7 separate regions of the Homo sapiens genome follow, and regions 2, 3, 4, 5, 6 and 7 are each reported to be linked to region 1. The links are microRNA targets in miRTarBase. Many come from high-throughput screens and were not tested one by one. Region 1 holds a microRNA gene; each other region holds the end of a gene's coding sequence.
The links. Region 1 holds the annotated microRNA hsa-miR-4530 (CCCAGCAGGACGGGAGCG, at 1,703-1,720, shown strand). A microRNA usually pairs through its seed, bases 2 to 8, with sites in the 3' UTR of a target mRNA and lowers its output. Matches are read on the target gene's strand: a 7mer-m8 pairs with bases 2 to 8, a 7mer-A1 pairs with bases 2 to 7 and ends in A, and an 8mer does both.

Region 2: the mRNA of STX6 is a reported target of hsa-miR-4530. Seed matches in the 3' UTR shown: 7mer-m8 at 1,633-1,639.
Region 3: miRTarBase lists GMEB2 as a target of hsa-miR-4530. Seed matches in the 3' UTR shown: 7mer-A1 at 652-658 and 7mer-m8 at 2,466-2,472.
Region 4: miRTarBase lists SLC39A9 as a target of hsa-miR-4530. Seed matches in the 3' UTR shown: 7mer-m8 at 1,378-1,384, 7mer-m8 at 874-880 and 7mer-A1 at 504-510.
Region 5: the mRNA of GPR132 is a reported target of hsa-miR-4530. Seed matches in the 3' UTR shown: 7mer-m8 at 463-469, 7mer-A1 at 607-613 and 7mer-m8 at 750-756.
Region 6: miRTarBase lists BEND4 as a target of hsa-miR-4530. Seed matches in the 3' UTR shown: 7mer-m8 at 229-235, 7mer-m8 at 130-136 and 7mer-m8 at 47-53.
Region 7: miRTarBase lists ARL4C as a target of hsa-miR-4530. Seed matches in the 3' UTR shown: 7mer-A1 at 1,040-1,046.

What each region holds. Positions count from the first base shown.
Region 1 is chr19:39,408,006-39,411,348 of GRCh38, reverse strand. MIR4530 (microRNA 4530) reads left to right here and starts at 1,671; the gene lies at 1,671-1,726. ZFP36 (ZFP36 ring finger protein) reads right to left here. Exons shown (of 2, transcript NM_003407.5): 2 at 1,942-3,343. The coding sequence ends at 2,650. RefSeq lists silencers at 939-1,258, 1,609-1,668 and enhancers at 1,321-1,911, 2,174-2,811, 2,812-3,343.
Region 2 is chr1:180,973,525-180,976,867 of GRCh38, reverse strand. It overlaps STX6 (syntaxin 6), which reads left to right. Exons shown (of 8, transcript NM_005819.6): 8 at 222-3,343. The coding sequence ends at 298. Among named protein-coding and RNA genes, the nearest start is that of KIAA1614-AS1, 20 kb to the right of the region's middle.
Region 3 is chr20:63,587,020-63,590,362 of GRCh38, reverse strand. It overlaps GMEB2 (glucocorticoid modulatory element binding protein 2), which reads left to right. Exons shown (of 10, transcript NM_012384.5): 10 at 1-2,758. The coding sequence ends at 274. Among named protein-coding and RNA genes, the nearest start is that of HELZ2, 14 kb to the right of the region's middle. RefSeq lists enhancers at 1-35, 1,953-2,122, 2,716-2,885 and a cis regulatory region at 2,800.
Region 4 is chr14:69,457,843-69,461,185 of GRCh38, reverse strand. It overlaps SLC39A9 (solute carrier family 39 member 9), which reads right to left. Exons shown (of 7, transcript NM_018375.5): 7 at 1-2,823. The coding sequence ends at 2,593. Among named protein-coding and RNA genes, the nearest start is that of PLEKHD1, 25 kb to the left of the region's middle. RefSeq lists a silencer at 849-898.
Region 5 is chr14:105,047,804-105,051,146 of GRCh38, reverse strand. GPR132 (G protein-coupled receptor 132) reads left to right here. Exons shown (of 4, transcript NM_013345.4): 4 at 1-1,752. The coding sequence ends at 153. The region is part of intron 1 of LOC124903398 (a long non-coding RNA gene); the gene reads right to left. Among named protein-coding and RNA genes, the nearest start is that of GPR132, 16 kb to the left of the region's middle.
Region 6 is chr4:42,114,830-42,118,172 of GRCh38, forward strand. BEND4 (BEN domain containing 4) reads right to left here. Exons shown (of 6, transcript NM_207406.4): 6 at 1-2,906. The coding sequence ends at 2,689. Among named protein-coding and RNA genes, the nearest start is that of BEND4, 36 kb to the right of the region's middle.
Region 7 is chr2:234,492,748-234,496,090 of GRCh38, reverse strand. ARL4C (ARF like GTPase 4C) reads left to right here. Exons shown (of 2, transcript NM_001282431.2): 1 at 1-79; 2 at 255-3,050. The coding sequence ends at 285. Among named protein-coding and RNA genes, the nearest start is that of ARL4C, 2.7 kb to the left of the region's middle.

The DNA.
Region 1 (3,343 bases):
AGAGTGGCCAAGGGGGAGGGTAAGCGATGGGTGCCAGATTGTGTGGGCTGTGGGGAGGACTTCGGACTTTGACTTTTATGTGACCTGACTCAGGTCTCATAACAGGCTTCCTTTGGTTGTCTCGTGGGGGAGTGGAGAAAGGAGAGACTGAAGGCAGGGGCTAGAGCAGAGACTGGGGCTGGGGCTGCTATGAAGATGCAAATGGCAGACGATGTTGGCTAGGACCAGGGTGGGGGTCATGGTGGGGGCAGGTGGATAGTGGATCTATTTTGCAGGTGGATCAGACAGGATTGCTGTTGGACTGGGGTGTGGATTTGAGAACAAGGTGTCAAGGGATACTCCTGGGTGTCTGGCTTAAGCCCTGGTAGATGGTGAGAAGTGCCGTTTTCTTATATGAGGGATTTTTTGGGGAAGGGGCAGAGAATCAGATCTGGCTAAAGGAAGGACCAGAGATGTTGTTCTTTCAGTCTCCAAGACTGTTTCTGCAAATGTCTCTTCACTGCTTGCTCTTGGTCTCTGCCCCTCTGCTGCCTTTGCATCTCAGGGGTTCTGACTCCCTCTCGCCTGATCCTCTTCTACTTATTAGGGCCTGAGCCCTTTCCCACAAGGGAAGCAGTTTCCTGGAAGAGGAGACCAAATGTCAGTGAGCAAGGGGAGTGGGCCAAGGAGGCCTGAGAGCAGGAGGGAGGCTTGAGGAGGGTAGAGAGAAGGGAGAGGAGGGAAAGGGGCTTCAGAGGGAGAGAGAAGAGGAGAAGGAGTAAGGCTAGGGGGAGGAGGGGAAGAGGACAATGGGGAGTGGGAGGGCAAGGAAAGGGTGGAGAGGGAAAGAAGGACGGAAAAAGGGAGAGAAGGGAGACGGGAAGGAGGAGAAAGGGGGTAAGAGACGGCAGGATGGGGAGGCTGGAAGTGGGAGAGGAGTAATGAGGGAGGGGACAAATTGGAGGGGGAGAGAAGAACAGAAGGCAAAGGGTGTAGGGCGGGGCAGAAGGGTGCAGAGGAGGAAGTGAAAAAGAGGAGGAAGGGTGAGGGTAGGGAAAGGAGAGAAGAGGGAAGTGAGAGGGAGGAGGGAGGAGTGCGGGGCAAGGAGAAAAAAGAGGGGTCGCAGGGGGCGAAGGCTGGGCGGCAGGGCCGAGCCGCAGGCGCTGACGCAGGGCGGCTTCCGGGCGCGGGGCCCCGGGGTTGGTCCCGACGACGCTGGCCTTGTATGGTCTGAAGACGCGGCTCCCCCGGGGCCCCTCCTAGACGCGCGGCCCCTACCCACACGCCCTGGCCTCGCGGGGCCGACCCTGGTCGGTGTGCGAAGCCTCGGACTTCCAAGGTTCGGAAATGCCAAGACCCGGTAATTCCCGGGCTCCAGGGTCCCGGGTGGCCAGAAATCTGCAACTCCGAGCCACCAGGGGTCTAGAGTCTAAAGCGCTAGGGGATGCAACCTGTGACTCCCAAATGTTGAGATCCTAGCCTCTTGAGACCCTAAACCCGCTTCCCCAACATCCAGAAGGTGTCGAAGCCCCCCCGGAACCTCTAGTCCCGAAACGGGTTCCGCTACCCCAGGCTGCCCCGCCCCGCGCCCGCCCCCGCTCGCTCTGGGCGCGCGCCCCAGCACATTCCGTCCTCCCCACCCGGCCCCTCCCGCCTCCCGCGGCCCCGTGGGGACGGAAACATCCCGTCCCCGACCGCACCCGCCCGAAGCTGGGTCAAGGAGCCCAGCAGGACGGGAGCGCGGCGCCCCCGACGCCCGGGAACTGGCTCCCCCGGTTCCCATCTGGTGACCTCACCTGGTCCCACCCTTTCAGGTGAACGGCCAGGCCCGGTGACGTCACTTCCTGCCAGGTAAGCGCCGCGGGGCTCGGAGAGGAAGAGTTAACTGCACCCAGCTTCCAAAAAGTCACCCCCTCCCTCTCCATTCCTGTCTCTAGACCGCGAAGAAGCCAGGATCCCAGCTTACACTCAGATTGTTTATTTAAAAATGCCCAAAACACAAAAATAGACTTTTAAGGTAATAATATATATTACTAAATATATTATAGTCTACTTATAATAATTATATCGTCGTTTTCAATATTACAAAAAAAGGAAGAAAAATACAAGGGAAGCAGACGACCCAATATATATAAATACTATAAAATCATATTAGAATAAATAAAGTCGTCATAAATAAAGGGCCCATTGATTTATGGGTGGGGTTTGGCAACGGCTTTGGCTACTTGCTTTTGGAGGGTAATTTGAGCACCAGGATTCCCCCTCAGGAGAGGTTCCAGTTACCAGGAGACACTGGAACCTCAGGTCTATAAAAACTGGAGGGGCAGTGAAGGCCTATTATTCACAGCACATAAGATTCTAGGAGACAGATTTGGGCAGGGAAGAGGTGGGGGAGAGGGTTCATTGCCTCCCTTAAATATGCTACAATTTTTTTTCCCCCAAGAACCTCGGAAGACACTCCATCCCCCACCATCATGAATACTGAGCTTGCACACTTGGGGACCTGCCCCAGCGTGAGGTCAGGGGAGTGGGTTAATGCATTCTGGAAAAGGGGATTACTTGATTACTGTCCCCCAAGTCCCCACAGCCCTGGGGTCCATGCAGAGACCACAGTGCAAGAGACGTGGCTCCCCGCTGAGATCCAGCTGATCTGACCGGGCAGTCACTTTGTCACTCAGAAACAGAGATGCGATTGAAGATGGGGAGTCGCCGGGGGGCTGCCACGGGCTGGGGTGGTGCAAAAACTCCCGCCTCGAAGACGGGAGAGTCAGAGCCCCCCAGGCTGCTGCCGCTGCTGGCATATTCATCAGGGTCGGATCCCAGGGACTGTACAGAGGGGGTCCGAACCAGGCCACCCAAGGGCCCCCAGACGCTGATAGGAGTGGCCCTTCGGCAGGAGGGGCAACAGACTGGGGTGGGGTCTCTTCGAGCCAGGGGGGTGCCAGGGGCAGCAGAGAAGGCAGAGGGTGACAGTGGAAGGTCCCCAGGTGGTGGTGGGGAGCTGGAGGGCGAGAAGGAGCTGGAGGACAGGGAAGGGCCGGCCAGGCCTGGTGGTGGTGGTGAGGTCCGGCGGCCAGAGGGCAGGCCGGAGAAGCTGATGCTCTGGCGAAGCACAGGAGGGTGGCCCGGGGCCGCCAGGTCTTCGCTAGGGTTGTGGATGAAGTGGCAGCGAGAGCCGTAGGGGCAGCGGCCCTGGAGGTAGAACTTGTGACAGAGTTCCGTCTTGTATTTGGGGTGGCGATTGGCCTGGCGCAGCTCGCCCAGGCCATGGGCAAACTGGCACTTGGCCCCGTAGCGGCAGCGCCCACTCTCTGAGAAGGTCCGACATAGCTCAGTCTTGTAGCGCGAGGGGGTGGTGGAGGTT
Region 2 (3,343 bases), not on the chromosome of region 1:
CATTTTCAGGGGACTGGCAAAGTTGTGACTGCATGCGAAGTGCAGGCCAAGAACAGAGCAGCATTAGAGCATCAGGCACCTAGGCAGGTGTAAGATCATGGCCCCGTCATTTGCACGTTCTGCCCCTTTTCTGCTTCAAAGGGTGCCATAAATTCCATATAACTGTATCTTGGGGAATGTGGAGTCCCTGTGAGAGCTAATCCCCATGTCCTGCCTTCCAGATCGGCGCCAATGGTGTGCCATAGCCATCCTCTTTGCAGTCCTGTTGGTTGTGCTCATCCTCTTCTTAGTGCTGTGACGGCGGGGCCTCTGGGTGCGAGTTCCTCCTGCATATGAACCGAGGGGAGGAGGAGAAGCTGAGCACGTGTGACATTGCCGTCTACTCACATTCCTATCCTGGAAACATACTGCTGCACTGACTTTTCTCCGTGTGACCCCACAATTGACATGGCTCCTCCATCCCAGCGCTGGAAGGGCCAGTGGGAAGAGGAAATAGATGTCTGCACTCCTGGCTGCAGCTGGACAACAGAAGCCCCATGCCGCCTGTCCAGTTCGGAGGAGAACTAGCTGCTGCCTTGCCTTCCGGGACCTCGTTTGCTGAGGAGGGACTTACAGACTCCACTGGTGTTTTGCTGTTGCTCATTCCATGCATCTTTGGCAGCTCTTTTCTTCTGCTCAGACCCTTCCCCGTGCTCAGACAGTGCACCGCTGTCCCATCTAAAGAAACCTGTCAGGAATACGAGCTTCTGGGTATGTTTCGTTTCCCATTGCTGTAGCATTTCTTATCCCCTGAGAGCTGATGATTATTGAGGACAGAAGGCTCAGAAACAGTTTGTGACAGAAAATGCAGTGTTTCATTTTTCAGGGATAAATGCTAAGATAAAATTGCTTTTCCAGGTCATTTTTTTTTGTGGTAAGAATAACTAATGGAAAATAATGAAACACCCTGGGGTTTGGGGGTGCTAACAACTTGTGGCTTTAACTGACAGGAGCAATTAAAAAGAGCAAGAGGGTTCTGCATTGGCATAGCTTAGGGAAGGGTTAATGATGTCGCCACAGGTCAGCTCCTGATCCTTGCCGACTTGATGTTGCTGTACCAGGGCTTCCTCCCCAGAGGTGCAGCTTGCGTTTTGAGGGTGATTGCTACATATGTTGTTGCTAAACAGCTCAGTAACACACTTGAATGAATTTGGATACCAGATTGTCCTCATTACAGTTCTTTTACTCTTAGGGCACTCTACACTGGGGGTTGGGGTTGGGAGTGGTTAGTACATTTATTACATTTATTAAGAAACGTAATGACATAAAAGGTTAGCTCTGGGCCAGACTTCTCTTACTCTGTGGGTAATGGCAAGGATGTGTAGGTAAACTTGGTTCTTTTTTTTCCCTAAGATGACAGCTTGATTTTATCATCTGCAGTCAAATAACTGAGCCAATCCAAATTTAAATGATAGATGCTTTAATTGAGTTTAAGTAGCTGAAACTGCTGAGACACTAAACTTTAACCTTCTGATGACTTTTTAAAATGCCTCAAATGTGCACATGTATATAGGATATTTTTATAACTTCCCTGATGAATAATCTGATATTAAAGTAGTATTTGGACCCAGAGCCAGAACTCGGTGGTGGAGGCTGCTGGTCTCTCCTCACCACCTTCTTTTGCACTTGGAAAGAACAGCAACATCTGGATAGAGTTCTAGCTTTGACTTCTCATTTCCTTGTCTTTTTGGGTGCATTCCTCAGCACACTTTTTTTTTAAACCTTTTTGTTTTGTTTTGTTTGTATTTCATGTGGTTTTATTTGGGGGTTTTGGTTTTTTCACCCTTTTTTGTGATTTGCAATGATGTGCTTGCCCAGCTAACTTTTGAATTGCACTTTTTAATAAATATTCTTAACAATTTTTGAAGAAGGATATTTTATCTCATTTGAGATCATGGTAGGTTAAGAAAATATGCCTGTTGATGAAAGCTAAAAGCAAATTTATGAAACTAAAAGGGTGATTGACATCCATGTTTACACTCCGCTCTAATGTTTGATATATAAATAAGTTATTTTCAAATTAGGAAAAAACAGTGAGTATTACAAAGGGCTTCAGATGTTTAGAGTACTAGGTTATTTATGTTTTACAAAGTTTGAATCTTCTATAAACTAAGAAAGGGGATGATCCTTAGATTTGCATTAAAATATAGAAGTCTTTTAAAGTAAATGTGAACCTTGTCTAAGTACTGTAATCCACACAACACATTATAAGAAGCAAACCAGCATCTTAAGGAATTATAAAATTACCCTATTTAAAAGCCATGCTATTGTTCTGCTATTACCAGATTTATTGTGCCACACAAAAGGATCATGTGTGTCAGCAGGGGCCGTTTGGAACAAACCTAGTCATTAATGAGTAAGATACTCCTGTTAGTTCAGGGACCAAGTTTTATGACCCAGAGGCTTAATGATGTTTGGATATATTTCAAATCGGCGTGCTTACCTCACTGATTTAAATTATTTTCTAAATAGTGGCCATTGTAGACCTGACTCAGGCTGAAGCTAAATAGAGAACAATTTAGAAAGTTAACTAACAATACAGTGCATTCTACCCGTAGGGCCACCATGCCCTTCTGCCCCTGGCTGATTTGATCCTGTGTCTGATCCCATTGCACCCTGACTGGGCAGTCCCTACAGAACCAGTGTTAATTTGAAGGGCCTCCACTCAGGCTCCAAATGTGGCAGCCAAAGAGAACAATCCAGGGAACCTACATTTATTTTTAAGGACAAATATTTCCTCCTCAGTGGTCCTAATGTTCAGGGCTTTAGAGGGAACCCAGGTGGTCTCTTCACCCTGTGTCCTAGAATGGGAGAGTAAGTAGACAGTGGTGATAACCCCACACTGCTTATAAGTGCATCTTTATAGTATTTGGGGCTTTCCTACCCCTTTAGCCTTCTGTACCTAGTACCATATTCCAGTTTTAAAGAACTGGCAGAATGTGATGGATAACAGAGGAAGAGCTCAATTTATGTTTATTGGAAGAACATTTTACTTAAATGATTTGAGGGGTGGGAGGGAGTGAACTACTGAGTTTGCCAGAGTGAAAATCCATCTGAAAAACTCAGCTACCTTTAGTTTTTAGTCCTCATTTTTGGTCTTGTCTCTGCGGACTGTGAAGAATCACAATGCTCTATATGCCCTGGACTGTGTGGCAAATGCAGGTTGCAGCGTGTGTGTTACATGAGGATCTTCCACAATTTCAGAATGCACGCCAGAGCTGAAGGGGGAAACTTGGTAACTTGCCCATTATTCTCTGCTTTTAGCCAGAGTTAAACAGACTGATGGGTCTGGTAGCCAACAACT
Region 3 (3,343 bases), not on the chromosome of region 1:
CTACCCCAGCACAGTGGAGATCCACCCGGACGCGTCCAGCCTCACGGTCCTGAGCACGGCCGCCGTGCAGGACGGTAGCACGGTGTTCAAGGTGGTCAGCCCGCTACAGCTGCTCACGTTGCCTGGCCTGGGCCCCACCCTGCAGAACGTGGCCCAGGCCTCGCCTGGCTCCAGCACAATTGTGACAGTGCCCGCAGGGGCTGCCCCCGGGCCTGAGGAGCACACGGCCACCATTGAGGTGGCTGCCATGGCAGAGGACCACGAGCGGAAGTAGCCGACAGGAGGGCGAGGCCCCTGGGACGGACAGGGCTGGCTGTCTCTCAGCCGCGGCAGCAGGGAGCGGGCAGAGGCCGCAGGGCTGGCTCGGGCAGGTGGGTCACGTGGTCTGCAGAACCAAAGAGAGGAATCGCCAAAACAAATCACGAGAAGAGAGAAGGGGACAGAACAGCGAGAGCAACCTGGAAAATCGGTCTTCAGGTCCCACGTTTCCTCCCCCTTTTTTCTTGGGAAATATATTTTTCCATCTGTTGCTTATTAATACTGTTTACACATTGGGCCTTGATCAGGAGCCAGGTGGGCGGGGGCTAGGGGGAGCCTGGGTGCAGCAGAGACAGAGGAAGCAGAGCCAGGTGCCGAGCGCGACCCTGCAGGTGCTGGACGCGGTGCAGCAGGTCACGAGGCCCCCATGTCTGCACCCAGCCAGGTCCCTGGGGACGTTACTAACTCATGACTTGGGAGCTAAGCCCAAGTGTGAAACCTCTGGATCCTATGGATTTGGTTTCTTCCCACAGTTTTCTGTAGGTTTAGTGTGGCTGGCGCCCCGTTCTCCTCCAGTTGGGAACATGCACCCGGAGCTTGGGGTGCAGATCCTGATGGGTGCCTGCCTCCCCCGCCCCCAGCCGGTGCTCAGGTGGCCCAGGGGCCGCACAGACGAGGCGTGGTCCAGGCATTGTTGCACATGTACTGAGGGTGTTTTTAAGTGAATTGCTTAGTAGGCTTCTAGGAAGAGTCAGATTTATAGCATTTTCAACCAAAATAATGGTGAGTGCCTAGGCTTCCCGAGTTAGCTCTTTGGGTGGCCCCTGAGCCCCTGTGAGTGCACTTGACCGGGTGCGGAGGTCCTGGGCAGCCTGTCCCTGAGCCGGCCCCTCCCAGGGGTCTGAGATCCATGAGGTGTGTCCCTAGGGCTTCAGTCCTGGGGCAGAGGCATAAACAGAACCAGTCACTATGGAGGTCGAGGATTCCCATGTGGGCCCTTCAGCTTGGGCTGCTTGGCCACGGAACAGCCCTTGGCTCCCTGGCCCCCGGCCCCCATGCAGCCCCTGGGCTGGCCCTTGGTGGTCTCTGTCCAAGGGAGAGCCCCTGGGTGTTCAGGAGGCTGCCCCGGGTGGGCTGCTCAGGGCAGCTGCCGAAGGTGGAGCCCAGAGCCTGTCTGGAAGGGCTGTCTGTGGCTGTCCTGAGACCTGGCCTTGGACTCACAAGGAAGACCAGGCTGAGGCCCCTCCAGGCCAGGGTCCTGGGGCAGGCATCTCAGGGAGCAGCCAGCCCAGGCCTCCTGCCGTCTCCAACAGGGCATGTCCCGGGAGGACCCTGAGTGCCAGATTCCCCTGGACGCTCCTGCTGATTCTGTCGGCAGTTGAAGGCCCGTCTGAGGCCCCGCAATGCGAGGGTCCTGTGTCCCACTTCACTGCTCCGAAGGGAACTGGCTGGCTGTCCGTCCAGTGAGCGGCCCAGACCCCACCTCTGCGCCATTGTCACCAGGGCCCTGTCCTGGCTGCCCTCACCCATGTCAAGCTACTGAGGCTGTGTCTTGTTTGTTTTCTCTGTTACATTTTTGTTTGCTGTTGTCACAGTCAGCTGGTTTCGGCGTGATGTTGATCTTTTGATGTACATACTCCGTTTTAAACTCATTTCCACTCTAGTTGAGTTCTGCAGCATGCAGCGGTATGACCCTACGGGGGTCAGGAGAGCCCTGCGGCCCCCACCCACCAGCTCAGAACCTGTCACTAATACAGCTGCCTGTGACCCTGGGACCCGCAACCTTCCAGCTGCTTCCCTTTGTCAAAGTCACGAGTGCGTCTGCCTTGACAGCCCTCGTCAACAGAACTTCCAGTGGGTTGTGGGTTCATTTCCTTTCTTTTTAAGAACAGGGTTGGGACCTTTTCTGCCCCTGCCCCTTAGCTACTGAGGCATAGGGAGAGGAAGTTAATTTCAGAGCCATACAAAAATAAGCCACAACCAGCTTCAGAATTAATTCCCAATCCCCCATTCCACCAGGGCTGGGAGCCCATTCCCAGTGCTTCCCAAGGCCCTCGGGGACATCTACCGCCAACCCAGCTGCTTCTGGCAGGGGCTCCAAGCCCCAGCGTGGGGAAGGGCCCTGGAGAAGCCCTCATCCTCATGGGAACCACACTGCAGTGGGTGGGGAAGGTTGTTGTCAGCACCGCCCCCGGCTCCTCCAGGTCCTGCTGGCTCCTCGGGGGCAGGGTTCCCTGGACCTCCCAGTTCTGCGCCTTGGGGCCAGCCAGTACTCAGAGAGGAGGACCTTCTCAACCACGTACAGAACACGGGTTTTCATGGCTGCCTTTGGTTTGGTTTTCTGAGAAGATAGGATTGGATTGGATTTTGCAGAGGGTGAGAACTTCTCTGTGCCTGCTCAGAGGCGCCCTAGGGAAGGGCCATGTTTGAGTTTTGCTTTGTATGTTGTTTTGCAAGTATCTGCCTGGTACTTTGATTTAAAATAAAAACAATTTTCATAGTTTGAGTGTCTATCTCTTGGAATGAAGTGTGGAGAGAAATCAAGTCTATAAACACGCCCAACGCAAACAGCGCTGGCTGCCACCCCCGCCCCGGACCACTCACACCCACATGCTTCGTTCTTCCAAGTGTGGCCTGGGGGCTTCAGGACCCTTCCAGGGTGTCCCGAGGTCAAAGCTGTTTTCATCACAGCAGGTGCCCTGTGCCCTTGTCCTTCTCTCCCCAGCACGCATCGGAGTTTTCAAGAGGCCTGGTGGGAGGATCATGGCCGTTTTAGTCGTTAGTGCTACTGTAACAAAATACCGCAGGCTGGGGGGCTTGCAAGCAACAGAGGTTCATTTATGCAGTTCTGCACGCTGGCAAGTCGGAGATCAAGAGCATCAGCCGATTTGGTGCCTGGTGAGGGTTTTGAATCAGCCGATTCGGTAACTCGTGAGGGTTTTGAAGGTGTCCTGCAAATCGCTGGAGGACAATAGTAAGAACAGCCTGGGCCCCACCTTGACCCGAGGCTGGCGTCGGAGGCACCGCCGCTCACAGGTAAGGAGACCTCTCAGTGGCACAGGGGCCTGCGCCCGCCAGTCAGGAG
Region 4 (3,343 bases), not on the chromosome of region 1:
GAATCATGCTTCTCATCATCAATTGCGTCTCTTTGGTAGCCAATAATTCCATCTGTAATCATGGCAGCAACTTAAGTATTGCCAATGTTTTCAAATGTGTTACAGCATTAAGGCATCCACATCTAAAGAGGCAGTTTTAAACAAGAGGAAAACGGAACTGAAATGTGCCAAGAAGTGAACACGGACATGGCCTCTCCTGGAATACTGCCCACCATGCCAGCAAGCTCTTCCTCCAGTCAAGAAGGCCTGTGCCACGCTGCTTGGTTCCCTGCTGCCTGAAGATGCATTTGAGCCCTATGAGATTAGTATGGCTATTTCTGTCTGCTGACCAGGAGAGAAATGAGTAGTTCTCGAGGCAGCAGCTTTAAAATCTGGGAAAGCCCATACATAGCTTCTGAGAGCTAAGAGGGCCCTGAAAGGTTTGCTTGTTAATAGTGAGGTCCAGAGGGGAAGGCAAATTTGGAAGTCAGATGGTTCAATCCTTGCCGGAGTTCAAGGCTCCATCCAGCAAGATATACTAGCCAAACTTTTAAGCATGATGGCAAGGCACTGCTGAAAGAGGCTTTGGCCAGTAGAACAAATTACCATTGCACACAACAATATGATAGAAAGCACTACTGTCCAAACCAAACCAGACACTACAATCTGCTATTTATTTGACAAAGTCAGTTTCCAGAGAGAATCTAGGCAACCATATAGTTTTGAAGGACTAGATGAAACCTCAAGTCTCACACCAGTCAGCTGTTAACATCCAATCAAGGAAGTCATTTGGACTTTCCATACTATACCTTCTCTTGGTAGTAAAATTGTATGCAATTGTTGCCAATGACTACATACAACTGTATCCTATTTGTGCTACTTTCCTCACTGTGGCCAGCAGAGGGCTCACAAGCTTTATTTCCACAGCTGCTGATCCAGTGACAAATTCATGAAGGAAATAAATCATAGGCATGCTAGCTTATGCGTCATAGAAAACGTTTTTACAAACTACTACGTCCACTGCCCTGAAGAAACTAGTCTTGGTTCCCCCTTAGTGTAATGTGTTTTGAAATGGTATAGAAAGTAAAAATAAATTAATAATACAATATTATACACTTATTTGACAAGACAGGGTTTACAAAAATTTTGGCAAATATGAAAAAAAAATTATCCTAGTCTGTTAAACACTTTTGCTATCTCAATTGTTTAAATTACCAGATTAGTGATTGTGTCAATTTACACATGAGGAGGTGGTATTTTAAGGGCTCAACAAAGCGGCATTTGACACAAAGGTAATTTCTTTGAAGGGGGATAAAGAATAAAGATATTATTATCTTCATTATTACAGTTCGAGAAGTGGTTGTCCTGATAAGAATTCATCCCACACAAATATTAACACCAGCAGTAAGCAGCAAATTGTGGCGAGGAGAGGCTAGAGGGAAAAGTTAGAAGAAAAGCAAAGAAAAGACGAAGAGACAAGAGACATGATTCCAATAAGCTTTAAATCAATAGGCAAACACTTCTCATTTATGATCCATCTTGCTACAGGTGGTTATGTGAGAAGACACAGTGTCGCCAAAGCTGACCTAGTATTTAGGTCCCTAGAGGGATTGCTGATCTGCTAAGAGAAATAATTAAAAAAAAAAAAAACAAAAAAAAAGGACAACCATACATTTTGGTAGTCTTTTAAAAAAAGCTACTACAAAGATATCAATAACCATCCAAAAATCACTTAAAATTTAATATCCCTTAATTTCCAAAGACACTTTGTGATCTGACTGTTCTTGAAGGAAAGCCTAGAACTGAAACTACTAGAACTTGGCTCCTCTCTAGGAATGTGGAGACAGGTATTCTGCAAAGGAGAACTTGACAAGGAATGCTACAAAATACCAGTCACCTCTTTAGAAGCTCCTCCCACCTCTCCTGCTCCATTTGATGGAATGGCAGGCTGGATTCAGAGAGGCACGTGCCAAAGGAGCTGTTTAAATCCCTCTAGACATCCCTTTTCAATGGATATCTCTTTTGAGTATAAAGAGAGCTTTCAATGTGTCTTGCTATCATTTTCCTGACCCTAATCCCAGATTAACTAGAATCACCTTTAGCATCTAAGTGAGTGGGTGCTATGACCTTCCATCAACGCATGTGGCATAGATGCTAAAGCACCAGTCTTACATGGTGGGAACCATGTTAAAAATCAATGGATAAAGTAGCAGAGCCTCTAAACTAAGAAGAAAGAGACATAGCTTAATTACAGAACACTGTATTTTCATAATCACTATTTCATTGTGAGTATGAAGTTCTCCTCTTTTCCTTAAAACTAAATTCCATCTTCCCTGAGAATAGGGTTAAGAGAAATATTAAAACGCAAAATGTCAAGGGCCTTTTAAAAGATAACACAATGGGATGTCTATAGCTAACTGCAACGTAAATGTGTTTCTACTCTAAAAGCTTTTCCATTACTCAGGTTTTAACCTCACCTCCCCTCTGGACTCTAGGAATACATGTAGAGATGCGCAAGGTGAGACAAGAGACTGAGGAAGTGAGTAGCTGTCACGTGCCGGCTGTTCTCACTGGATGGCAAACGGCCCTGGACCAAGGCTGGACCTTGAACATTTAATGCTGGTGTCCTACTGACAGGATGAGAGGGATGAGGCAACCCAGAACCAGGGCTGCCACTTCCAGGCGGCTGAGGCCTCTCCCTCCCGTGGCATCGGGCTTGTGGCTGTGCCCTATTCCGCCCACCTCAGGGAGGACATGTACTGTGGCAACATAAAGAAATGTCCCGGCAGAGAAAAGCATGGCCACTCCCGTGGCGTTCACCTCTGAAAGGGCTTCTTTACTGCTCTGTGAATTAGAAGAGAGAAAGAGGAAAAACTAAGTCAAGTAAAATTCAGGGTCAGGAAGAAGTCCCAGTTAAAAAACACTCACTGTTCTTAACTGGTGCTGTCTAGGACACTGGGGACATCTAGAGAACACAGCAACTTTAAGTTATTCATGGGAAGCTTCCAAATAAGGGTTTAAGAATATCAGTGATGTACGCAATTGATTTTTTAAAAAATTTATTGTAAATCAACAATTTATAATTATATATATTTATAGGGTATAAAGTGACATTATGATTCATGAATAAAATGTGGACTAATTAAATAAAACTAACATCTGTCATCTCAAATATTTATCATATTTTGTGGTGAGAACATCTGAAATTTACTCTTAGCAATTTTGATATGTACCACACACTATTATTAAACTATATTCACCACAGTTCCATCATTCTGTCCATCCATTCATTGACTGTATCTGTCTTTAGAGATGAGGTCTCGCTATGTTGCCCAGGCTGGAGTTGAGTGGCTATTCACAGGCA
Region 5 (3,343 bases), not on the chromosome of region 1:
ATGAAGACAGACGTCACCAGGCTCACCCACAGCAGGGACACCGAGGAGCTGCAGTCGCCCGTGGCCCTTGCAGACCACTACACCTTCTCCAGGCCCGTGCACCCACCAGGGTCACCATGCCCTGCAAAGAGGCTGATTGAGGAGTCCTGCTGAGCCCACTGTGTGGCAGGGGGATGGCAGGTTGGGGGTCCTGGGGCCAGCAATGTGGTTCCTGTGCACTGAGCCCACCAGCCACAGTGCCCATGTCCCCTCTGGAAGACAAACTACCAATTTCTCGTTCCTGAAGCCACTCCCTCCGTGACCACTGGCCCCAGGCTTTCCCACATGGAAGGTGGCTGCATGCCAAGGGGAGGAGCGACACCTCCAGGCTTCCGGGAGCCCAGAGAGCATGTGGCAGGCAGTGGGGCCTCTTCATCAGCAGCCTGCCTGGCTGGCTCCCTTGGCTGTGGGCAGGTAGCACGCCTGCTGGCAGAGGTACCTGGTGGCTGCCCTGTTCGCATCAGTGGCGATGACTTTATTTGCGGAGCATTTCTGCAAGCGTTGCCTGGATGCGGTGGTGCATTGTGGGCCCTCTGGGCTCCTGCCTCAGAATGTCAGTGAGCACCATGCTGGAGGTCACCCAGCACTGTGGCAGCGCCCAGGAGGGCATAGGGCAGCCTACCACCTCCAAGGGGGCAGGCGCCCTCATCTGGGGTTGGGTCTGTGCTGAGCTGGAGGGCCTCTAGGGAACCGTGGGGCAGGGTGGCCAGCTGCTGGCTCCCAGAGCGCAGCCCAGGCGTCCTCAACGGGGAGCCCCAAATGTCCACGCCCAGAACAACAGTTGGCAGGACAGGTGTGACACAGCCACAGCAGAGGCAAGGGGTGCCAGGAGTCCCCAGCGGCATCCTCGGGGAGATGCTGGTGAGGGGTCCGTACAGGGTGGGGTCCCCACCCCTAGCCCCTTACTGAGGGGGGAGTGCAGCAGTTGGCCTGCTTGTCTGGCGGAGAAAGCCAGCTCCCTGCACCCTCGGGGCTGAGTCAGATCTGGGTCTGCCGCAAAGGCCTTGCCTAGACCAGGTCACACTGATGCCCTGGTTTCCCTATCTGTAAAATGGGGCCAATGACACCTACCTCACTGGGTCACCATCGAGATCAATCCTCCTCCCTGCCCCGACACCTCGGGCACATCGCATGCACTCAGAGCACAGAGCCGGGCAGACGCAGCACCTGCATGGGGAGCCCAGTGCCCGGCACAGCACAGGGGCTTCCAGGGAGGCCGCGCAGGGCCGTGGGGCTGAGCCACGCTCTCGTTTTGTCAGGCAGCTATGCAGTTGCTCTTCCTTGTTTTTGTTTTGTTTTTGTTTTTGTTTTTAATATTTATTTTTTTAGAGACAGGGCCTTGCTCTGTTGCCTGGGCTGGAGAACAGTGGCACCATCATAGCTCACTGCAGCCTCAAACTCCTGGGCTCAAGCGATCCTCCCCGCTCAGCCTCCTGAGTAGCTGGGACTACAGGTGTGCACCACCACACCCAGCCAAAACAGCCATCCTCCCCTTGAGAGTCATCAGAAAAATACATTAGGAAAATGTGTTTAGAAATAAAAGCACAAGGCAGGGCAGTGCTCACGCCTGTCATCCCAGCACTTTGGGAGGCCGAGACGGGAGGATCAGTTGAGGTCAGGAGTTTGAGACCAGCCTCGGCAACATGGCAAAATCTTGTCTCTTTTTTTTGGTATTAAAAAAATCATAAAAATAAAAGAAATAATGCAATTTAACCTTCACAGTTAACATTTCTCCAATTTAACCTTCACAGTTAACATTTCTCCAATTTAACCTTCACAGTTAACATTTCTCCTGCCTTGAGAGGAGTGTGCCCCTAGGCTTCCAGAGGACAGCCGTGACCAGGGACTTGAAAAGTTGGGGCTGAGGTTCTGGACCAGTCTGGAATATTCAGGGCTGGGGCAAAAGGGATCATAACGATGTCCAGCAGGGGCTTTCCTGTGGCTGCTATAACCAGTTCCCACAAGTTGGTGGCTTAAAACAACAAACCGGGCTGGGCACCATGGCTCATGCCTATAATCCCAGCACTTTGGGAGGCCAAGGCGGGCAGATCACCTGAGGTCAGGAGTTCAAGACTAGCCTGGCCAACATGATGAAACCCCGTCTCTACTAAAAACACACACAAAAAAATTATCTGGGTGTGGTGGAGCACACCTGTAATCCCAGCTACTTCGGAGGCTGAGACAGGAGAATCGCTTGAACCCAGGAGGCAGAGGTTGCAGTGAGCTGCGATCGTGCCATTGCACTCCAGCCTGGGCAACAAGAGCAAAATTCCTTCTCAAAAAACAAAACAACAGCAACAACAAAAAAACACAACCAAAAACTGTTTACTCAGGCTGGGCGCGGTGGCTCACGCCTGTAATCCCAGCACTTTGGGAGGCCGAGGCGGGCGGATCACGAGGTCAGGAGATCAAGACCATCCTGGCTAACACAGTGAAACCCCTTCTCTACTAAAAATACAAAAAATTAGCCGGGCGTGGTGGCAGGCGCCTGTAGTCCCAGCTACTCGGGAGGCTGAGGCAGGAGAATGGCGTGAACCCAGGAGGCAGAACTTGCAGTGAGCCGAGATCGCGCCACTGCACTCCAGCCTGGGAGACAGAGCGAGACTCCATCTCAAAAAAAAAAAAACCACTGTTTTCTCACAGCTCTGAAGCCAGAGTCCACTTTTTCATCTTTTGCTGCCACACAGCAACAAATAAGAGCCTCGCTCCCACGTCAGATCCCAGCCTTGGGGACCGGGCGCCGTCTCACCCACCGGTAGGGACAGCAGGGCTAGGCTGAGACACGCAGAGTACCTGGCTCAGGCGAGGGACTGCCTGAACTGGCTGGTGTCACAGTGGCAGGAAAGTTACCAGGCATAGCCGGGTGAGGTGGCACCTGCAGTCCCAGCTGCTTAGGAGGCTGAGGTGAGAGGATCATTTGAGCCTGGGAGGTGGAGGCTGCAGTGAGCTAGCACTGCACCACTGCACACGGGGAGGCCAGGAGACAAAGGCCCGATGGGACCTGGGGATGACACCTCTGTGGCGGTTTCAGAGGGCGCCTGAGCGCAATGTCTGCAGTGAAATTTAAAAATGGACACCGGACCTGTGGGACCCACGGCAGTCACCATCAGGTGGGGAAGCTCTATGCAAAGACAAACCACTCAGAGTGAAACTCGGGGGGTGGGGCTTACCTGATGGGAGGGGCAGCTACGGGGACCTTGCCCAGGGTGAGGCCCAAATGGGACCAGGCACCCAGAAGGGAGGCCCAGCCCAGCCCTTAATGCTGAGACCCTCGAGGGCTGTGGGCGGAGGGCAGCAGGTTGAG
Region 6 (3,343 bases), not on the chromosome of region 1:
AAGGTGAAGCTCAAGGGGCAGTGTGGATATGTCCCAAGGAGAGGAGCCAGCAGTGTCCACAGTGATGCTGTATCACGGCCTCAGTGGCGGCTAGTGCCTGCGTCAGACGCTAGGCTTGGCTAAAGGAACCCAGCAGATACACAAACAGTAGAAGTACAATGGAATATCTCACTCAGGAGCAAAAGTCGTAGGAACATTTCACTCAGGCAAAAGCTGTAGGTCCGAGACCCAGCAGAGGAGTTAGAACTGGCTGTGCGATGCTGAGTATGGAGTCTGTCAGCCTTGTGCAAAAGAGATGCCCAACAATTAGTCTCAACATTCAGAATCTGTGGATGGAGAAACAGCTGATAGAGAAATGATTAACCTGGAATGGGTGCGAGGGAGGAAGAGACCATGTGTAACTTTGGAACAAAAGTGGTGTGCAAACCTGGGACAGCAGCCTTCTCAGGAGGTAACAGTGACAGCCAAAACACAGGCTGCTGCCCCCCGCCCTTGCAGCAGTGGTGCAGGTGCGTTGTCATGTACGGCCATGGAGCAGGGGTGCAGAAAGTGCTCTCATCAGCCTCAGCGAAGACCAGCACGATAGGGCTCCAAGATGATATTTGGATATGAAGAAATATTCAGGACTCTCAAACTTCCAGAAAAACAAGAAGGGCTAGTCTGTTTTTCTTAAAAGCAGTGATCAAATATTGTTGCTTTAGAAAAACAGAACGATGTATTCAGCAGTAAGGACAACTTAAGGCCAATGAAAAATTAAGGTAAGATGGAAAAACAGATGAGGCTATGGTGGTGTTTTTCTTCTAGCGAAGATGTCATGTTGTCAAAGAATCTTATAAGACAGACACTGACTTCTCGGACCTCTAAAAAATGCTTTAAGAGGTATCTTTCTTCCTTGGAGAGCCAAAGAGACTGGTCTCATGGCTGCCGTAAGAACATGGCATTTGCCCATATCATTTCTTTTACTTCCAAATTTTAGCTAATTTGCCCCAAATAGAATTGAATATTGGTTCTCCCTATTCCATTGAATGATATGACAAATTTTAGTTAATTTTCTCAAAACAGGATTGAAATATTAGTGCCCACTACATCATTGAGCAGATCTGACAGATGACCACCTCCATAAACATTAAACTTTTCAATGGATGAATTCTAGTAATACAAAAAAGCTAATAAACAAAAGCTACAGAAAGACCTGTTTCTAGGACTTTGTATATAGTGAATACAAACTAAATATTAAATCTAAAGGACAATTTATGAGTTTATGTTGACAAAAATAGCCCAAAAACCCTTTATCAATGGATGCTCATTAACCTGAATCTCCAACCAATTTTCAAAAACCCTTGGTCATGTCTGTAGATGACATTAGTAGCCTTCAATAAACGCTGTCCATTTAGCCCTTTGCTCTACAAAGAATGTAGTAATCTGGACTAGTTTGGTAAAGAAAGCCTCTCCTGAGTCCAAACAGGAAGCCCTCAGAAATGATGACTCTAGCACCTCTATAGCATTTGCCAATATGGAAAGTTTCCAAAGATACCACTAATTTCACATATGGAACTCAACAAATTAACCAGGGGATAGCGGCACAGTGCTGACTTAGCCATAGCTAAGGGGTACATTGGGGTAAAGGAGGCACGGAGGGGATGAAATGTTTTCATCAAGGACAATGGGAAACAAGTTTCATACAAATTCTAAAGATCAGCTCAGCAGAGAAAGACCCTCAAATTTCAGAGCAATTACTGACAAGCCCATTGCATAGTTGTCAGAATCGCCTTGAAGCTGTGTGTATACAATGCCAGAACATCTAGTCAATTCAGCGAATACCATCAGTCACACCACTTGTTTGGTCTTCAGTGCACCAAACAACTAATTGCTTTAAATTTTCATTGTTCTACCCATCACTTTGGCATTGTGTCAACAAAGCCTGATTTAAGGCTATGGAAACTGCGGATTTATTAACCTACAAAACTGAGCATTTGAAAATGGTTTTGGATCTTTGGATGTTTCTTGACTAACAATGAAAAATGACTACTGTTTGTAAACTCCAGAGATCAAATAGTGCCTTCTTGATCAACACAGTGGTTTTTAAACAACAGAAAAACAGTTGACCTGTAATTAATCACTGTCTGCAGATGTTGCCTCTGTTCTCTGGTTTCCTTTTAGTAATAGACATTATTAATGTCAAAATGGTATATGATGTCATCTATCCTATGTCTTTGCCGAGAAATATGAAGTCAAGTCTTTGGAAAACATAAAGACAACTTATTTGAATTAAGAGAATGTTTGCTTCTTGTCCCTTAACACAACTCCATGTCTCCACCTTCTCCCATGGGCAGAAACACTACCCCAGCCTACCTTGGGGACTATCTCTGCCCAGGTAGCAGAGTTTGAAGATTTCAGAAAGGTAACTAGGAGCTCACCTATTTTTTCACCCTCATGATCTAGCTAGTAATCATTTAAAAATCAGATGTAGTTTTTTCTTTTTATAATATAATATTCCAAAAGTCTGTTGTAGGTGCCACAGACTTCCCAAACAACCCTAAAATGGATTTCTATTTGGGTACTGTGGCAGCTGAGAATGTGTAGACTATGGCAGAATGACAGGCTTTGGACTCTCAGGTGACAGGAACAGGACATTCACAATTGGAACTCTTGAGAGGACCAGCTGCTACAACAGGAAGATTCTGTCCACTAATCCCCAGATCCATCCTGGGAACTTTTATTGAAGACTTCATCCTGAGAAGCCTGGTGATCGATCCCTTCATAAAATGAGCCACCGTTGTGCAGGAAAGTCCCCACCGCCCGCCCCTGTCGGGCGTGACCGACAGCGTCGCTGAACACTTTGTTTATCTGCTCTTCCGAGGGCATCCACCAATCGGGGTTGGAGGTACAATGCATCCTAATGAATTCTGCAGGAATATATACAACATCAAAAAGAGAGAGAGAAAAAAACAGCTGGTTTTTGCAGAAGATGACAGGGCAGGCTGCTTAAACTTTAACAGAAGCTCTATAAGAAAAGCTTTATGGGAAATCCAACGCAATGCCATGATGATGTCACTCATTAGACCCAATTTATTCCATACAAATTTTCTTCTCATGTGCAAAAGTAAAAAAAAAAAATTACACAGATATAGAGGGTAATCCCTCTAAGGAACATTTGCTGTTGAAATAAAAGGTAAATTTGATTTGTAAGGCATGGGATGCACCATGTCTGGTGTAAGTCAAGGAGACAGATTTCAAAACCCAAGTTGTTACCTGCTCACATTTTGAGAATGTTACTATCTCCAGAAGCACAGCAAATACCATTAGCATGGTATTCTTTAACCAGCTACTAATTTGAAGATAG
Region 7 (3,343 bases), not on the chromosome of region 1:
AGGGCCTCACCGAGGGCATGGACAAGCTCTATGAGATGATCCTGAAACGCAGGAAGTCCCTCAAGCAGAAGAAGAAGCGGTAATGCGCCCGGAGCGACCGGGGAGCGAGCGAGTGCGTCAAGAAAGAATGAATGGATGGATGGATGGTTGGATGGATGGATGGATGGATGAGCGAGAACCCGCGCCCGCGAACAAAGAGCGAACCAAAGCGATGCTTCGAATTTTTAAAACGGAATCTCTGCACCCAAATGCAGGACTGGTGACTTAAGGAGCTGCGAAGTCTGATTTACCGGCCTACTCTCGACCTGCCCCCCACCCCCAGCTCAGGGGACCTTTTGTCTGAACGCCAGAGCTACTGACCAGGTCGGGGGGCCGCGGTGGGGAGTGGAAGAGCCGGTCCTGCTGTCCGCCCTCCCAGCCCCAGGTGGAAGGCTCAGTTGTCGGAAAGACAAAAGCGATTTCTTCCCACTCCTGCAGGGCCAGAAGTTCAGGCTGCCCCGCCTCCACTGGGGGATCGCACCTGTGAATTACCTGAGGTATGCATTTCCCAGAACCGTGGGCGTACCCACCTTGGGGGGCATGTTGGTTCTGGGGGGACCACCTCTCCTTGCATTCAGGGGCTGTGAAGCTGAGTAATTTTCGGTCACAGGGCAGGCCCCTGTTGAAATTTCATTTGTCCTGCTCTGGGCCCAAAGGTGGTGGTGGTTTGGGTCATCAGAGGACTGCCTGGGACGGTTCAGCGGGCACGGAGCGCTGTGCTGGCCTGGCTGGGGATGGCCGCGGAGGTGCCCTTTTCCTGGTGCTTTGTGGTGGCTGCAGAAGACCAGTTTTGTTGAGAACTGCTTTTCAGCCTGGAATCAGACATCTTCCAGATGGTTTGGACCCTGTCCATGTGTAGGTCATTATCACACAAAGAGACCAATAAAAATAAAAAAAATAAAAAAAAAAAAAGACGAACTATTGGAGGTGGTGGCCAATGATGCATTTACTGTTTGCAGGATAGTTAAAGGTGTTTAAAGGGTAAGGCTTTTGGTGTAAATGCTGGATGGGGTGTGTGTGTGTGTGGATATAGGGACCTCCCTCTGTACTGTGTACTGTGTAATCGGCATTAATACCTAGACTCATATGTATGGAATTTTAAATTCTCTTAGCCTACTGATTGGTTTGGATGAGCACACCAGCTGCAGGTGTGTGCTGAATTGCAAGATGGTATTTTTTTTTTTAACCAAGGGATGTCTCTTGTAATACTAACCGCGTGATAATGGGTTTTCAGACATGATGAAAAAAAAAAACTTTTACAAATGAATACTTACCTTAGAAATATTCACCTTAGGAAAAAAGACTTTGCTCTGCCCTTTTATATTCCTTTATGCTGCAAGTGGTGACATGTTCAGATTTCTAATTTGGTTCATTGTGGCCTATCTGGTTTAAGTCTTTCATTAAAAATGTCTCGTTAGAGTATTTGATGTCATGCACCAAAAAAATAAAACCCCACCTTGTTGCAAAAGCTGACCTCGTTGCATGGAATTAAAAGAGAAGGAAAAACACAAGGATGAAGTCTTTCCGAATTCATTCTTGTGGGAACTGGCCTTCGGAGCCAGCCAGCACTTTGGGCAAATGCAAACAACAATGAGTGCTTGAGATAAAAGAAAGTGTGACGTCATGGTCACTGGTACTCAGGCACTTCACAGTTTACTTGAAAGAGGCTTTGGAAAATAGATAAAGTGAAAGAAGAATAAATACATATTTTTAATAATGTAATTTTAAAAATCCTTTATAATCAGGACTGAGTCTTGGTTTGCAGAAGCTGTCACTTACCCTGAAACACAGTATCAAAAGGGAAACTTAAAACATACTGTTTGATTTTTTTATTTCCTCTTACAATCCATGTTTTCAGGTAGAATTATGACTTTCCCCCCATTGTTACACATTTCTTTACAAAGGAGGCCTGTAGAAATTGGACACGATCATGCTTGAGCATGTGAGTTAGTCAAATTATGAGTCCCTGCCTATTGTCCATTACACACCGAATGTTAATTTAAGAACCAGAGGCAGAAGTTCTGGCTTCCTGCTTGAAACCCAATTCTTATATGAAATTTTTTAAAAGCAGAAACCTAGCAGCCCATCTGCTTTTTCTCTTTTGTCGGTGTATTTGGTACCCCTCCAATGCTGGTCTTTTTGTAGAAACTCAGTAGAGAAAGTCTAGCTAAGCAGTGTTGAAAAGCCTGCAAGATTTCAGTTTACATATCGACAGCATATCCACTGATTTCTAAATGGGCTGGTCCCATCATCTGAAGATTCTGTATAGAATTATTAAAAAAAAAATCCATCTTTCTTTATTTTCTTCACATGCGACAATTTCTTAAGCACTTTGACATTTTGGTAGTTCCACACTATTGAGAGAATAATATATTTATTTTGTGACATTGCAGATGCCAAATACTGTAACCTTCTCATGATAACAATACTTAGGTTCAAGATCACTGTTCAAACCCTGTCATGCTTTAAAACTGATGCGAGATGATTTTGTTTTTTGCATAATCAATACTTAAGGGTGCAATCAACTGTTAGTAATTGTGCAGTAAAGTAAAGCCCTGTGGTGTATCAACTACTAGTTAAGAGTCTCAGTTGATTTCTGTAATGTTTGACCTAATAATAGCCCGTTTCGTCTCTGACCCAACAGAGGAAGCACAGATCAAATCACCTTGGAGTGGTCACCAGGGGGACAGGGAGCCCCCCACCAATGTATCAATGGGTGATTTATGATGCCTTCTGCCCTTTGGCGAGTGAATGGGTTTCCCATAGGGGAAGTTGGCCTCCCTCCGTGAGCTTTGGAAATGTTTTCTAATAGACACAGGGAGGCCAGTTCTGTTTCAGAGCAATTATCTTCCCAAATTCTCTGTTCTGGTGTTGGAACTGTGTGCCCTGGTTTCTGTTTTCCTTTCTACTGCTGTAATTCTCTGTCTCATCATCCTTCTCTTTTGTTTCCATAGCCTTTTATAATGCATATATGATGCTGTGAACAGAAATAAATTATTTATACAATCAAATGACTGGGGAGATTTTCTGTGGAATTTTTTGTTTGTTTTTTTGACATTGCTGGTATTCATTCTCTAGGCCTCTGCTGAGTGGGGGGATGGATCACAAGATGGTGTCTGGAGTTCTAGTCGGTATATCAGTCATCTCAATTTTTGGTGTCAGGGTCTAGCTCTGCCGTGAATGGTGGATCCGGATGCTAAAATGCAGGAGTCTGTATGCATTTGAGGCTCGTTCACTTGCGCCTGTCCTTCATCTGGGTGCCTTCCACTGCGTCATTTCAAATCCTTTAGGAAAATGGCCTCAA